Linked DNA regions of Homo sapiens. Each later gene encodes a partner of the first gene's protein in a complex. Each region holds a gene or a part of one and is shown on either strand. Other genes may lie near its edges. The genes, in order: ARPC3 and ARPC2.

The links.
Region 2: ARPC3 (region 1) and ARPC2 share a complex: the UniProt entries of both Homo sapiens proteins name them as parts of the arp2/3 complex.

What each region holds. Positions count from the first base shown.
Region 1 is NC_000012.12:110,433,176-110,441,010, reverse strand, and holds the end of ARPC3 (actin-related protein 2/3 complex subunit 3), read left to right. Parts: intron 1-622; coding exon 623-699; intron 700-3,858; coding exon 3,859-3,927; intron 3,928-4,327; coding exon 4,328-4,454; intron 4,455-4,806; coding exon 4,807-4,901; intron 4,902-5,793; coding exon 5,794-5,856; 3' UTR 5,857-6,188; downstream 6,189-7,835. UniProt on the Homo sapiens protein: Component of the Arp2/3 complex, a multiprotein complex that mediates actin polymerization upon stimulation by nucleation-promoting factor (NPF).
Region 2 is NC_000002.12:218,247,097-218,255,576, forward strand, and holds the end of ARPC2 (actin-related protein 2/3 complex subunit 2), read left to right. Parts: intron 1-2,267; coding exon 2,268-2,368; intron 2,369-2,724; coding exon 2,725-2,825; intron 2,826-6,794; coding exon 6,795-6,819; 3' UTR 6,820-7,252; downstream 7,253-8,480. UniProt on the Homo sapiens protein: Actin-binding component of the Arp2/3 complex, a multiprotein complex that mediates actin polymerization upon stimulation by nucleation-promoting factor (NPF).

The DNA.
Region 1 (7,835 bases):
TATAGCTGAGCATGGTGGCAGGTGCCTATAGCCCCAGCTACTTGGGAGGCTGAGGCAGGAGAATGCCGTGAACCCGGGAGGCGGAGCTTGCAGTGAGCCAAGATCGCGCCACTGCACTCCAGCCTGGGCGACAGAGTGAAACTCTGTCTCAAAAAAAAAAACAAAGGCTGGGCACGGTGGCTCATGCCTGTAATCCCAGCACTTTGGGAGGCCGAGATGGGCGGATCACGCGGTCAGGAGATCAAGACCATCCTGGCTAACATGGTGAAACCCCATCTCTACTAAAAATACAAAAAATTAGCGGGGTGTGGTGGCAGGTGCCTGTAGCCCCAGCTACTCAGGAGGCTGAGGCAGGAGAATGGCGTGAACCCGGGAGGCAGAGCTTGCAGTGAGCCAAGATCACGCCACTGCACTCCAGCCTGGGTGACAGAGCGAGACTCTGTCTCAAAAAAAAAACAAATAAATATTTTCTAAAAACTTTGTATTTCAATAGGATCATTTTATTTTATTCAACTCCACAACTGTTGACAGTTGTATGTGTTTTCCCTTTATGGCTTTGATAGTTGTTATGTTTTGTATTTGGCTAATGTTCTCTGTGCTCCTTCCCTTGTGTCCTGCTTAGCAAAAGATACAGATATTGTGGATGAAGCCATCTATTACTTCAAGGCCAATGTCTTCTTCAAAAACTATGAAATTAAGGTAAATTACGGAGCTTTTAATATTTAACTTAGTTTTCTCATAGGGATAATACCAACCTTGCTATCCAGATTGCTGTGAGGAGAAAATAAAATGAAATCAGCATGTAATTTTTAAATTCGAGAGCAGTGCTTAATGTTAGCTTTTGTATAAATATTAGTTTCTTTTTTTTTCCTCCAAATTCTATACCAGGGGTTGGCAAACTCTAACCTGAGGGCCACATTTGGCCCACTGCCCCTTTTTATGAATAAACCTTTATTGGAACACAGCCACAACCATTTGTTTCTATATTATCTATAGTTACTTTCACACCAAAACAGCAGAATTGAGTAGTTGTGACAAAGACTGTATGGCCCACAAAACCTAAAAATACTGCCTGCCTTTTACAGAGAAAGTTTGCCAACCCCTTGCTAGAAGTATCTTTATTTATTCAACATTAGTTAAGCAGCACCTACTATGTGCCAGCCTTTTGTTTTGTTTTGAGACAGGGTCTTGCTCCGTCGCCCAGGCTAGAGTGCAGTGGCACAATCACAGCTCACTATACCGTCAACCTCCTGGGCTCAGACAGTCCTCCTGCCTCAGCCTCCCAGGTAGCTGGAACTACAGGCATGCACCACCACACCTGGCTAATTTTTTGTATTTTTAGTAGAGACGGGGTTTCACAATGTTAGGCAGGATGGTGTCTCGATCTCCTGACCTCATGATCCGCTCACCTCAGCCTCTCAGTGTGCTGGGATTACAGGCGTGAGCCACCGCTCCCGGCCCTAAAATGGAATTTCAGCCCCTCCTTGCCAAACTCTGAACTTCTGGAATCAAACAGGTTGTGAATTATTTATTTGTAGACTCTTGGTGTACAAATTGTAGTCTAAACATTCTGTGATGGTAATAGAATGTTTTCTATATCTCATGTGTGGGTTAAGTTTGTAACAGTTATAAATGTTACAATTCTCTGGGCACATTGCTTGAGTTCAGGAGTTCGAGACCAGCCTGGGCAACATGGCGAACCCCCGTCTCTACAAAAAATAGAAAAATTAGTGCATGGTGGCTCACGCCTGTAATCCCAACACTTGGGAGGCTGAGGCGGGTGGATCACATGATGCCAGGAGTTTGAGACCAGCCTGGCCAACAAAGCGAAACCCCATCTCTACCAAAAATACAAAAATTAGCCAGGTGTAGTAGTGCATGCCTGTAATCCCAGCTACTCGGGAGGCTGAAGCACAAGAATTGCTTGAACCCAGGAGGTGATGGTTGCAGTGAGCCGAGATCACACCACTGCACCCAGCCTGGGCGACAGAGCAAGACTGTCTCAAAAAAAAAACAAAAAACTCTGCCACATTTCATTTGTTCCCAGATACTATATTGTCTTAAAAATAGGGAAATGTGGCTGGGCGCAGTGCCTCTGCCCGTAATTTGGGAGGCCAAGGCGGGCGGATCACCTGAGGTCGGGAGCTTGAGACCAGCCTGACCAACATGGGGAAACCCCGTCTCTACTAAAAATACAAAATTAACTGGGCGTGGTGGTGCGTGCCTGTAATCCCAGCTACTTGGGAGGCTGAGGCAGGAGAATCACTTGAACCCAGGAGGCAGAGGTTGCGGTGAGCCAATATCACGCCATTGCACTCCAGCCTGGGCAGCAAAAGTGAAACACTCAAAAAAAAAAAAATATATAGGAAAATGGTGTGGTTTGGGGGTAATTTTTTTGTTGTTTTTTTGTTTTGAGACAGAGTCCCGCTCTGTCACCAGGCTGGAGTGCAATGGCGTGATCTCGGCTCAGTGCAACCCTCGACTCCCGGGTTCAAGTGGTTCTCCTGCCTCAGCCTCCCAAGTAGCTGGGATTACAGGCACGCGCCACCACGCCAAGCTAATTTTTGTATTTTTTGGTAGGGACAGGGTTTCACCACGTTGGCCAGGATGGTCTCGATCTCCTGAGCTCGTGATACACCCACCTTGGACTTCCAAAGTGTTGGGATTACAGGTGTGGGCCACCGCACCCGGCCTTTTTTTTTTTTTTTTTAATTCGAGACAGAGTCTTGCTCTGTTGCCCAGGCTGCAGTGCAGTGGTACAGTCTTGACTCATTACAACCTCTGCCTCCTGGCTTCAAGCGATTCTGTGGCCTTAGCCTCCCTAGCAGCTGGGATTACAGGCGCACGCCACCATGACTGGCTAATTTTTGTATTTTTAGTAGAGACGGTGTTTCGCCATGTTGCCCAGGCTGGTCTCAAACTCCTGGGCTCAAGCAATCCACCCACCTCAACCTCCCAAAGTGCTGGGATTACAGGCATAAGCCACTGCACCTGGCCTAAATTTGTGTAAAATTTGACCCAAAGTCCATACCACATTTGATCAACATTCATTTGTCTTCTCCACATTTTCTTTTTGGTTAGGTCAAGACATTGAGATTATGGAGTTCTTTGGGAGCAAGTCAAATGTGAAATAGTTGCTTCCTCCTTTAGAGTAATGACTATTTCTGTTCTCGGCAGAGACCCTGAAGGGAAGGGTTTTTAAAAATTAGCCAACCATATGGAGCAGTTCAGGCTTTCCAGGCAGCTTTGTTACTTCTTCCTATACAGTGAGGGGCTGTTGACACAGATCCTTGGGAACCCTGGGGCAAGGGGAGCCGAGAAAAACAAGAGAGAGCAGCCACTCAGCCGAGCGTGGTGGCTCATGCCTGTAATCCCAGCACTTTGGGAGGCTGAGGTGGACAGATCACTTGAGGTCAGGAGTTCGAGACCAACCTGGCCAACATGGTGAAACCCCGTCTCTACTAAAAATAGAAAAATTAGCCAGGCGTGGTGGCGGGCACCTGTAATCCCAGCTACTCGGGAGGCTGAGGCAGGAGAATTGCTTGAACCTGGGAGGTGGAGGTTGCAGTGAGCTGAGATTGTGCCACTGCACTCCAGCCTGGGCAACAGAGCAAGACTCCGTCTCAAAAAAAAAAAGCAGCTGCACATCTCAGAGTGGGGCTTGTGCCTTCCTCCCAGGGGCAGACGGAAAAGGAGACTGAGGAGACTGTGCATTTGGAGAATGGGAGTTTTGATGTGATAGTGGCTGTCCTACCACTGCATTCAGCAGATAATCAGAAGACAAAGATGGAATGCATACATTGCACATCATTGTTATGTTTTGATAACTGTTTTTAAGTCTTCTTTTTCTCCCTGTAGAATGAAGCTGATAGGACCTTGATATATATAACTCTCTACATTTCTGAATGTCTGAAGAAACTGCAAAAGGTAATTAAACTTGGATGATTGTATATCAGGAAAACAAATTGCTGAGAGGCATTTACCCTCCCAGTCATCTGGGATTTGTTGAGACTTTAAAGACAAGTAGAAAATATTTCCTCTGACTTACAGCATGGACTTAAGAGAAAAATTTGAATTTAGTTACCTGAACTTGTAGTATAATTGACTGACACAAAGATAAAAGTAGTGGTGTTTTAAGGCTTTGAATATATTTTCTCAAGACAGAAATCTTGACAGAGGAATTCCTTTTAAGCCCTTGACTCAAGGGTTCTTAACCTGGGGTCCAAGGATAGAATTCTTCTTTTCCCTGTAAAATATGTGTGTGTGTGTGTGTGTGTGTGTGTGTGTGTGTGTGTGTGTATATATATATATATATTTTTTTTTCCAGTGCAATTCCAAAAGCCAAGGTGAGAAAGAAATGTATACGCTGGGAATCACTAATTTTCCCATTCCTGGAGAGCCTGGTTTTCCACTTAACGCAATTTATGCCAAACCTGCAAACAAACAGGAAGATGGTAAGAACAGGTCTCTATCCTCACTCTGTGACACAAGAAGATTTTCTCCATTTGACTTCCTACCACCCCTCTTTTTCTTGCCTTGATTCATGTACAGATTGAGAGTGAAATCATAGGAAGTACATTATCTTATTAGTCACTCTCACAAACGATTCTTGGCAACAAGGATGACATGCAGAAAATCTTTTGAACAAAAACAAATATAGTTATAAAACTATCTGGACTGTCATTTCTATTTTGTATCCTGTTCAAATGTATAAAAATGTATTACCACAGTGAGCATCCAGAGCTGCAACCAGTACATTTGGGATGTATTTGCAAATACAGTTTTTTTTAAATTGTTCTGTTTTAGAAGTGATGAGAGCCTATTTACAACAGCTAAGGCAAGAGACTGGACTGAGACTTTGTGAGAAAGTTTTCGACCCTCAGAATGATAAACCCAGCAAGGTAAGACCCTCTTCTTGCCTGCTTAATTGGTAAATCACCTTTTATCCCATAGCCACCATTGAACACACTAAGGTCTTCCATTGCAAGAATATTTTTAATTTCTGCATTGCAATGTTGCTTAACTTCCAGTATATGTCTAGTATGTAATATGAGTTCACTGAATCACACTAAATAATGAATTGCAGGCCGGGCGCAGTGGCTCACGCCTGTAATCCCACCACTTTGGGAGGCCGAGGCGAGTGGATCACTTGCGGTCAGGAGTTCGAGACCAGCCTGGCCAACATGGTGAAACCCCCATCTCTACTGAAAATACAAAAAATTAGCCAGGCATGATGGTGTGCACCTGTCATCTCAGCTACTCAGGAGGCTGAGACAAGAGAGTCGCTTGAACCCAGGAAGTGGAGGTTGCAGTGAGCCAAGATCATGCCATTACACTCCAGCCTGAATGACAGAGTGAGACTTTGTCTAAAAAGGGTTTATGGCCAGGCGCGGTGGCTCACGCCTCTAATCCCAGCACTTTGGGAGGCCAAAGCAGGCGGATCATGAGGTCAGGAGATTGAGACCATCCTGGCTAACATGGTGAAACCCCGTCTCTACTAAAAAATACAAAAAATTAGCCAGGCGTGGTGGCAGGCGCCTGTAGTCCCAGCTACTGGGGAGGCTAAGGCAGGAGAATGGCATGAACCCAGGAGGCGGAGCTTGCAGTGAGCCAAGATCACACCACTGCACTCCAGCACTCCAGCCTGGGCGACAGAGCGAGACTCCGTCTCAAAAAAAAAAAAAAAAAGTTTATAAGAGATTCCAGACTAATGTGAAATTTTATTATTAAATAAATGCAAATTCTATTGTAATTTGACCCCGCTGTTCATTCTGTGTTGTTCTCTCTTGTTAGTGGTGGACTTGCTTTGTGAAGAGACAGTTCATGAACAAGAGTCTTTCAGGACCTGGACAGTGAAGGGAGCCCGGGCAGCCACCGTCTCCAGAGCCCTGGGCAGCATTTTCCAGCAAGATGTACACAATCTTTTGCCTTTATTTCGTAAAGTTTTATACAGAAGAGAGAAGAGCATGTCTTTACTTGAAAAACTCTTGATCAAGAATTTGGGTGGGAGAAAAGAAAGTGGGTTATCAAGGGTGATTTGAAATTTTCTGCAGCATTAAAGCTGGCGCTTAATAAGAATAAGTAATAATAAAGAAATTTCTAACATTCCATGTCAGAAAAACTTTATTGCCAGTCTTTGACATTCACTTACAATTTGTTTTGAGATAAAATTCACATTCCATAATGCCCTTTTAAAGTGTACAATTCACTTTTTTTAGTATATACATGAAGTTTTACAACCATCCCCAGTAAATCCAGAGCATTTTCATCACCCCGGTGTAGTGAACCTGCACTCTTTAGCAGCCACCCCACCCCACATTCCTCCCCAAGCCCCCTGTCCCTCCCACCCCTCCTCCCAGTATTAATCTACTTTCTGTCTCTATGGATTTGCTTATTCTGGATAATTCATGTAAATTGAATTTTTTATACAACATGTGGCCTTTTATGTCTAGCTTCTTTGACTTAATGTTTTCTAATTCATCCATGTTAGAGCATATATCAGTGCTTTCTTTTCTCTTTTTCTTTTTTTTCTCTCTGTGTATATGTATGAAATAAAATATACTAATATGGCCAGGCGCAGTGGATCACGCCTGTAATCCCAGCACTTTGGGAGGCCCAGGCGGGCAGATCACCTGAGGTCGGGAGTTTGAGACTAGCCTGACTAACACGGAGAAACCTGGTCTCTACTAAAAATACAAAAACCAGCCGGGCCGGGTGCGATGGCTCACGCCTGTAATCCCAGCAATTTGGGAGGCCCAGGCAGGCGGCTCACCTGAGGTCAGGAGTTTGAGACCAGCCTGACCAATATGATGAAACAATGTCTCTACTAAAAATACAAAAATTAGCCGGGCATGGTGGCACGCGCCCGTAATCCCAGCTATTCGGGAGGCTGACACAGAAGAATCGCTTGAACCTGAGAGGCAGAGGTTGCAGTGAGCCGAGATCGCACCATTGCACTCCAGCTTGGGCAACAAGAGCGAAACTCCATCTCAAAAAAAAAAAAAAAAAAAAAAAAAACTCAGCTGGGCGTGGTGGCGCATGCCTGTAATCCCAGCTACTCGGGAGGCTGAGGCAGGAGAATCGCTTAAACCTGGGAGGCAGAGGTTACGGTGAGCCGAAGGTTGCGGTAGGCTGAGATCGCGCCATTACACTCCAGCCTGGGCAACGAGTGAAACTTCGTCTCAAAAAAAAAAAACGGCCAGACGCGGTAGCTCACGCCTGTAATCCCAACACTTTGGGAGGCCAAGGCGGGCGGATCATAAGGTCAGGAGAATCGAGACCATCCTGGCTAACACAGTGAAACCTCCGTCTCTACTAAAAAAATACAAAAAATTAGCCAGGCGTGGTGGCGAGCGCCTGTAGTGCCAGCTACTCAGGAGGCTGTGGAAGGGGAATGGCGTGAACCTGGGAGGCGGAGCTTGCAGTGAGTGGAGATTGCACCACTGCACTCCAGCCTGGGCAAGAGAGTGAGACTCCATCTCCAAAAAAAAAAAAAAAAACCTAGAGTTTATGGTAGTACTTGAATGATTAGAGTATTTGCATTTTGTTTTTACGGGTGAATATATGATTTTAATATGTGGGTTAAATGCTCTTGAGCATCTGTTTAAAGACTTGAATTACAAGCTAGCTAAATACCACAGTTCACACAGCAAAAGGAATGGATATGTGAAAACCTACTCCATAGATAAACAGAAGGACAGTCCTGAAGCCAAAAGAGTGGTGGTGGTGTGTCGTGGGGGGTTTTGTTTGTTTAATTAAAATTTGTTTGTTTGTTTGTTTTTGAAACAGGGTATCACTGTTGCCCAGGCTGGAGTGCAGTGGCATGAACACGGCCC
Region 2 (8,480 bases), on another chromosome or scaffold:
CCTGGGTGGCAGAGTGAGACCCTATCTCACCAAAAAAAGGAGTTAAGAAGAGAACCACCTAAGCAGCTAGATGGGGGTTCTCTGTCATTTGGCAATTCTTGGTTTTTTGCTTATTAAGCCCAAGCTCCAGCCGTGATCCACTTACTCCACTTTTTCGCGGAATAAATTCAGGTCTTCCTTCAGTTGCTCCAGCCTCATGCACTGGCTGATTATGATAGCTTACAGTTTGGAATTAATAAGCTTGTTCACACTGCACCCAATGCCACTGGAATGTCTCCTTTGTGAAATGTAATTTAATTCACCTCAGTGGTAAAGGTGAACCTGTTTATTGGTGATGAATCTGTTGATTTACCAAATTTCATTAAATCTAAACTATACACTTTTTTCTTTTTTCTTTCTCTCTGTCACCCAGGCTGGAGTGCAGTGGTGTGATCTCGGCTCACTGCAACCTCTGCTTCCCAGGCTCAAACAATTCTCGTGCCTCAGCTTCCCAGGTAGCTGGGACCACAGGCGTGTGCCACCACACCCGGCTAATTTTTGTATTTTCAGTAGAAACAGGGTTTCCAGCTGGGCACGGTGGCTCACGCCTGTAATCCCAGCACTTTGGGAGGCCGAGGCAAGTGGATCACGATGTCAGGAGATCGAGACCATCCTGGCTAACACAGTGAAACCCCATCTCTACAAAAAATACAAAAACTTAGCTGGGCGTGGTGGTGGGTGCCTGTAGTCCCAGCTACCCTGAAGGCTGAGGCAGGAGAATGGCGTGAACCTGGGAGGCGGAGCTTGCAATAGGCCAAGATCACGCGACTGCACTCCAGCCTGGGCGACAGAACAAGACTCCGTCTCAAAAAAAATTAAAAAAAAAAAAAAGAAACAGGGTTTCCATGTTGGCCAGGCTGATCTCAACTCCTGGCCTCAAGCAATCCACTCACTTCAGCCTCCCAAAGTGCTGGGATTACAGGCGTGTGCCACTGCGCCCAGCCAGCTATACCATTTTTTTCAAGTTTTTGTCTTTGAAGCTGGGATGCATCTTACAATTCATAGCATGTCACACTTTAATTGGCAGCATGTTTCTCTTGTGGTACATAAAATTATGGCAGACTTACAGTCATAAGCACCTTAGATTCTTTGAAGTATAGTTGTCTTCTGTTGTGGTGTTCATTTACTTTCAGGCCAGGGCACATTGACACAGAAATTCCACACTTCCTTAGGAGGCATTCCTTTTCATTTCAACGAAAACTTCAGACAACTGACGGGGTTTTGCAGATAGTGAGTAGAGGAGGTGCAGCAGGTAAAAACGATTCCAGAAAACCAGGGCAAGAGGGGCATGCAGGCCTGCTGTAGTGCAAAGGACTTTGTGATGAGCACACAGGTCTTTTTTTGAGATGGAGTCTTGCTCTGTCACTCAGGCTGGAGTGCAGTGGCACCGTCTTGGCTCACTGCAACCTCCACCCCCCGGGTTTAAGCGATTCTCCTGCCTCAGCCTCCTAAGTAGCTGAGATTACAGGCACACGCCATCACATGTGGCTAATTTTTATATTTTTAGTAGAGATGGGGTTTCACCATGTTGGCCAGGCTGGTCTCAAAACTCCTGATCTCAGATGATCAGCCTGCGTCAGCCTCCCAAAGTGCTGGGATTACAGGCGTGAGCCATCGCGCCCAGCCTCACACAGGTCTTTAGGTGGCTGGTGTCACAGGGTGGACTTCAGTCAGGCCCATTCAGAGCAGCTCCTCCTGCCTGGCCTATCATGAGGGTTCAGGTCCTTACACCTTATTGTCTGTTTTCACAGTGAGAATATGGGAAATTCTCTGGCATCTGTTTTCTGGGAAGGTTTACTCTATTTCAGCACCAAGGACCTAAGACAGGCAGCTGCATTTCCTAATCCTGATTCCTTAAAGTAAACTGTTACAGCCAGTTAGTGTGATCCTGGAGTGTGTCCAGCTGCAGAGGCAAGAGCTAGTACCTGTGTGGCAGACCGGAAATAGATTTCAAAATGCACAGCTGCAGAATTCAGGAGTAGAATGAAGGCCTAGGGTCAAGCCCTGTTTTTCATCGTGGGCTCCTCCATTCACGCTCGTTGACACCTTTCCTGGCCATGCTGTTTAACTTCCATGTCAAGAAAAAACCCTGACAAAGCCTGGTAATACTGACACAAGTGGAGTGTACTTAAGCAGAGAGGGAGTGATGTTCACTAGGCTGTTGTTCTTCCCCACCCTTTGGCATTTGTGTCGTGTCCTGACGCCTTGTTTGTGTCTTCCGCCTTCAGTGCTGTTCCCTCGTCACACCAATGCCAGTGCTCGAGACAACACCATCAACCTGATCCACACGTTCCGGGACTACCTGCACTACCACATCAAGTGCTCTAAGGTGAGGGGGGTGCCAGCATCTCAGCCTCTATGCTCTGGGTCTTTTCCTCCACCAGAACTCCTGACAGAAAGTCATTCCATTAGTCTACGCTGTGGATATTGACTCTTAGGTAAATAATTCTAGAGGCTTCAAGAAACCATGGTCTTTCTTCATCAAGCCACTGTCCCCCATCCCTCCCTATAGCAGAGATGAATATTTGTTTCCAGAATTGCTCACCTTCCTGCTTCCCTGCAGGGCCTGGGTCAATCCCAGGGTGTATGTTCCCAACCGCCCTTGATGACCTCTCTGATGAAAGACAGCAAAGCTGTCTTTCTAGACCATGACTGTGCTTTAGTACCTGTTATGTTTGTTCCCAGGCCTATATTCACACACGTATGCGGGCGAAAACGTCTGACTTCCTCAAGGTGCTGAACCGCGCACGCCCAGATGCCGAGAAAAAAGAAATGAAAACAATCACGTAAGTTAGGCAGCACCCCAGCGACCACCTTCCTCTCCTGAGTCACCGAGAAGGAAGCAGTGGGCGCTGGTGGCCTGGTCCTCCATGTATCTGGGCACTGGCTACATATGAGGTCAGCAGGGCTAAGTAGATAAACCAAAGGTGGGATTCCATGTTCTCACTGCCATATAGGCCAGGATGGGTTTCCTTGTTTCCGTATCTTTGTGAGCTATGAGAATGGCAGCTAGGAAATAAACAAAGTTTACCAAGAGACTGTTCTTTTTGGGCCTGAGTTATGAGGTCAGTCTTGTGCTTTTGGTGGTCTTTCTGGAGAGATGGAGTAAGTTGCTTAGGGACCTTTAATTGGGTAAATAGGCCTGAAACCACCCCACTAAGTGTTCTTTTTCCTGGTCCACTCTCAGCAGGAAGTTTGCATGCAGAGGAAGGTTCTCTTTATCAGGGATAGAATTGAGGAGAGCCGTGACGGGCGCTGTGGCTCACGCCTGTAATCCCAGCACTTTGGGAGGCTGAGATGGGTGGATCACAGGGTCAGGAGTTCAGGACCAGCCTGGCCAAGACGGTGAAACCCCATCTTTACTAAAAATACAAAAAAAATTAGCCGGTCGTGGTGGCAGGTGCCTGTAGTCCCGGCTACTCGGGAGGCTGAGGCAGAGAATTGCTTGAGCCCAGGAGGCAGAGGTCGCAGTGAGCCAAGATTGTGCCACTGCACTCCAGCCTGAGCGACAGAGTAAGACTTAGTCTCAAAAAAAAAAAAAAAAATTTGAGGAGAGCCCTAAATAGGGGTGTGGCTCTGCATGCAGGAAAGGCGAGCATGGCCTAGAGCCTAGAGAGTTCCATCTTTGTGAAAGGTGCCAGACCTTGGTTCTTCTGATGAAATTCAGGCAGTCCTGTCCTTAAGATAAGGTAATAGTGTTCATTTGCTGGTTTTTGTTTGTTTGTTTGTTTTTTGGTGGGGGTGTTGGGGGAGACAGAGTCTCACTCTGTCGCCCAGGCTGGAGTGCAGTGGCGCGATCTCAGCTCACTGCAGCCTCTGCCTCCCAACTAGCTGGGACTGCAGGTGCACACCACCACGCCCGGCTAATTTTTTGTATTTTAGTAGAGATGGGGTTTCACCATGTTGCCCAGGCTGGTCTAGAACTCGTGAGCTCAGGCAGTCCACCCACCTCGGCCTCCCATCTGCTGTCTTTTGTACCAGTTGAACTAAAAGTCTTGAGGTCATAAGCCTCCCTCACAGCCAGTGTTATTTGCCAGCACCCCAGTACTGTTGTTGTTTTGTTTTGTTGTTTTGTTTTTGTTTTTTGTTTTTTGATACAGAGTTTCGCTCTTGAAGCACAGGCTGGAGTGCAGAGGCACAATCTTAGTTCACTACGACCTCTGCCTCCTGGGTTCAAGCAATTCTCTTGCCTCAGCCTCCCAAGTAGCTGGGACTACAGGCGTGCGCCACTAAGCCCCACTAATTTATTTGTATTTTTAATAGAGACAGGGTTTCACCATATTGGCCAGGCTGGTCTTGAACTGCTGACCTCGTGATCCACCTACCTCAGCTTCCCAAAGTGTTGGGATTAAGGAGTGAGCCACCGCGCCCAGCCCAGTACTCTGTGATCCCCAGCCAGGCTCAACCTCCTGGGCTCAAGCAATCCTCCCATCTCAGCCCCCCAAGTAGCTGGGACCACAGGCATGCACCATCACAGCTGGCTAATTTTTGTATTTTTGTAGAGACGGGATTTCACCATGTTGTCCAGGCTGGTCTCGAACTCCTGGACTCAAGTGATCCTCCCACCTCAGCCTCCCAAAGTGTTGGGATAACAGACATGAGCCACCACACCTGGCCCAGCACTCAGTACTCTTGAGGCAAAGTTTTAGTGGGTGTGGTACGCCTAGGGCTTTACACTCTCTCTCTTGCATTTGAGGGCTCTTCTACCAAGTTAGTTTCTGCTGTCATTTGAAAGGATGAGAAAGAGATCAAGGACTTGAGCAGTAGGTGAGGGTTTTCAGACATTGTCAAAAAGCAGTTTAAGGCCAGGTGCGGTGGCTCACGCTTGTAATCCCAGCACTTTGGGAGGCCGAGGCAGGCGGATCACCTGAGGTCAGGAGTTGGAGACCTCCAGCCTGACCAACATGGAGAAACCCCATCTCTACTAAAAATACAGAATTAGCTAGGCATGGTAGTGCATGCCTGTAATCCCAGCTACTCTGGAGGCTGAGGCAGGAGAATCAGTTGAACCCGGGAGGCAGAGGTTGCGGTGAGCTAAGATCGCACCATTGCACTCCAGCCTGAGCAACAAGAGCGAAACTCCATCTCAAAAAAAAAAGCACTTTTTAAGTCACCTCGACTTCTTTAGGCAAAGGCCTGTCTCTGTAGCAGCTCAGAGAGGAGTGTCCAAATGCCATGCAATGAAATGGCAGCATCGTTTCTTTTCTGCAGCTTCTTGGGCAGATCTTTAAATGGGCAAAGTGACCAACAAGGTGGGTGGGCAGGTGAGAGGATGTGCTTGCTGCCTCTCCAGAACCTAGTCTCCATCCTGGTGTCTACATTTTCCCCTTTCCCTGCTTGCTCTACACAGGAGTACTTTTCTCACCGGGTACTTGTTTGGTGACCTGGAGTGTGAGGCAGTGAATTTCATGCTGCTTTCAGGGCCCAGTAGACAGGCAGTTCAGTAGAGGCCAAGAGGTAAACTGGCAGCCAGGTACAGTGAGAGGGAAGCCTGACCTGGCAGCCTGTGATAACCGGACTGGAAGGCTGGGCATCATAATAGTCTCAGGGCTGCCAGCATCACCTTTGGCACTGGTAGCTGCTTGTGCATCCAGGAGGAAGGCCTGTTAGGCAGCTGCTGCCCGATTCCACAGCCAGCAGGCAGTCGTGGGAGTCCCTGCCCAGTGAGTGCAGTTGTGTAGCGGGCAGGGATAGCTCCCTGTCCTGGTGAGAGACCCAGGAAGGGATGAATCCTTAAAATGAACAGACTGTTCATAAGCCTCCTCTCTGGGACTTAGAAAGAGCAACTTTGCCTTCTTCTGTGCTGCAGCTTCTCTTTGGCAGAGTTGGGCCCCAGAAAGGAGAAGCAGGAGACAAACAGCTGCATCCACCCTGAAAACCAGATTATGTTACTAATGGTGGGTAGGAGTTAAGTGACTCAGCTGTGGGCAGAAGCCAGGAACCCTCGATGGGCCGCCCAGAATTGAACACTCAGGAGCTTTTCATTTGGAGAGAAGGATAATAAGGTGTAGCTTCATTTTGGAATAAGCGATACATCCAAGACAGGGAAAATCTAGAGCCCATGTTTTTGCCCTGATTTCCCATAGTTCTCAGCTCTAGCTTCCAGGCTGCTTTCCCAGATACTGTTAGGTACCAGTTAGAGGCTCTGTCCTTGAGAACCACCTAGCCCATCTGGAGAAATACTGGGTGGAACAGGACACCACAATTCAGGAGCCTCGAACCAGGCAGGTGTTGTATAAGCCAGAGGAGGAGTCACCACGTGATAGCAGAAATACCTTTAGCCTTGGAAGTTCTGAGGATTGCTCTGAACCAGCCACCTGCCTTCATGGTGAGAGATAAAGGAACTGCTATCTGGGAGCCCTGAGAGGTATACACTGTGTAGGAGGAGCTGACAAATGAGGTAGTACTAAGAAGACGGTTTGAGCCTAGTCGGAAATTCAGGTACGTCTAGGCCATCCAGAAATTGTGAACAAGTGATTCTTCTATCTAACTTGGTACGTTGAATGTCCTTGTGGGCTTAACACTGATATTCCCGGGCATCCAAAGTATCCAATAGGAAGGAAGAGCTCGTGAAACCATTCTGTGAAAGCCAGATTTTAGCCGATGTCCTGTGGTTCCAGTGCCTCTGCTTAAGGAATCTAGCCCTTTCCACCTCTCATTTGGTGTTTCTTTGGGATCCCATCTAGTCTAGGAGTGTGGGGTGGGAGGAAAGGGCAGCCAGAAACTGACCTTCGCACTTATCTCTCCTTTTGAAGGGGGAAGACGTTTTCATCCCGCTAATCTTGGGAATAAGAGGAGGAAGCGGCTGGCAACTGAAGGCTGGAACACTTGCTACTGGATAATCGTAGCTTTTAATGTTGCGCCTCTTCAGGTTCTTAAGGGATTCTCCGTTTTGGTTCCATTTTGTACACGTTTGGAAAATAATCTGCAGAAACGAGCTGTGCTTGCAAAGACTTCATAGTTCCCAAGAATTAAAAAAAAAAAAAAAAGAATTCCACTTGATCAACTTAATTCCTTTTCTTTATCTTCCCTCCCTCACTTCCCTTTTCTCCCACCCTCTTTTCCAAGCTGTTTCGCTTTGCAATATATTACTGGTAATGAGTTGCAGGATAATGCAGTCATAACTTGTTTTCTCCTAAGTATTTGAGTTCAAAACTCCTGTATCTAAAGAAATACGGTTGGGGTCATTAATAAAGAAAATCTTTCTATCTTACATGAGAATTTGCTGGGTTTCTGGACTGCGAGTCCAAAGTGAGAAGAGAAGGAAGGAAGAAGGATAGACCTATACTACCCTTGAACCTGCAAACCTAAGCTGGGAAGCCCTAGTTTCAGGAGCCCATCAGGTTTAGATCCTCACCTTCCCTAGAGGAGAGAATGGCTGGCCAGTGAGCTATATTTAAACTTTTTTTTTTTCCCCCTGAGAGACAGGGTCATTACCTCCTGGGCTCGGGTGATCATCCCACCTCAGCCTCCCAAATAGCTGGGATTACAGGCGCATACCACTATGCCTGGCTAATTTTTTTTATTTTTAGTAGAGATGAGGTTTCGCCATCTTGCCCAGGCTGGTCTCAAACTCCTGGACTCAGGCAGTTTGCTTGCTTCAGCCTCTCAAAGTGCTGGGATTATAGGCATGAGCTATGGAACCCAGCGAGCTATTAATACAAACTTACATGCTTCCTTATAAAGCTTGGTCCCTGAGACTCTGTGGCTGCTCCTGAAGCTCCCTGGTCAATGACAGAGAAATTAAAGGGTTTTCTGGTTTATCTTTTTATTGTGAATAATGTGTGGAATTTCCCAAAATGTGTTCCTTAGTGTGTGGTCCTGCAGGACATTGATGAGTATTCAGGTGTGGGTCTGATGCAGACTAATTGGCCACAGTTTGTCTTTCTCACATGGCAGCCCAAAAGACTGCTCTCAGGGAGAGCAGTTGTCAAAAACAGTACAGAGCCTAGTAGAGCAGCTGTCCCCCAGCAGGACTCTGGTCCCTGAAATGAAATTGCTTCAGAAAGTTTGCTTGGTGTAAGGAATTAAGAGGAGAATTTTAGGGGCACCTGCAACGGTCTGATGGTCATTCTAATGGTTTCTGCCTTCCATCTATGGCAGTGTTTCATACTGGCTTGGGACCCATTAATTGTGGTGTGACTATATCACAACAAGCATTTTTGTTTTCTAAACTTTTGATTTTGAGATAACTGTAGATTTAAATACGGTTGTAAGAAACAATACAGAGAGATCCTGTATACCTTCCACTTGGTTCCCCCACCATGCTAACATCTTGTATAATTGTTGTATAACATCACAGCCAAGAAAAAATCATTAGTATAGTCCACACACCTTCAGATTTGGCCGGATTTACGTGCACTGTATGAGATGTACATCTGTGCATTTTTATCATACGTGTAGCTTTGTGTGACGCCAGCATTTTTAAGCAATTGAATAGT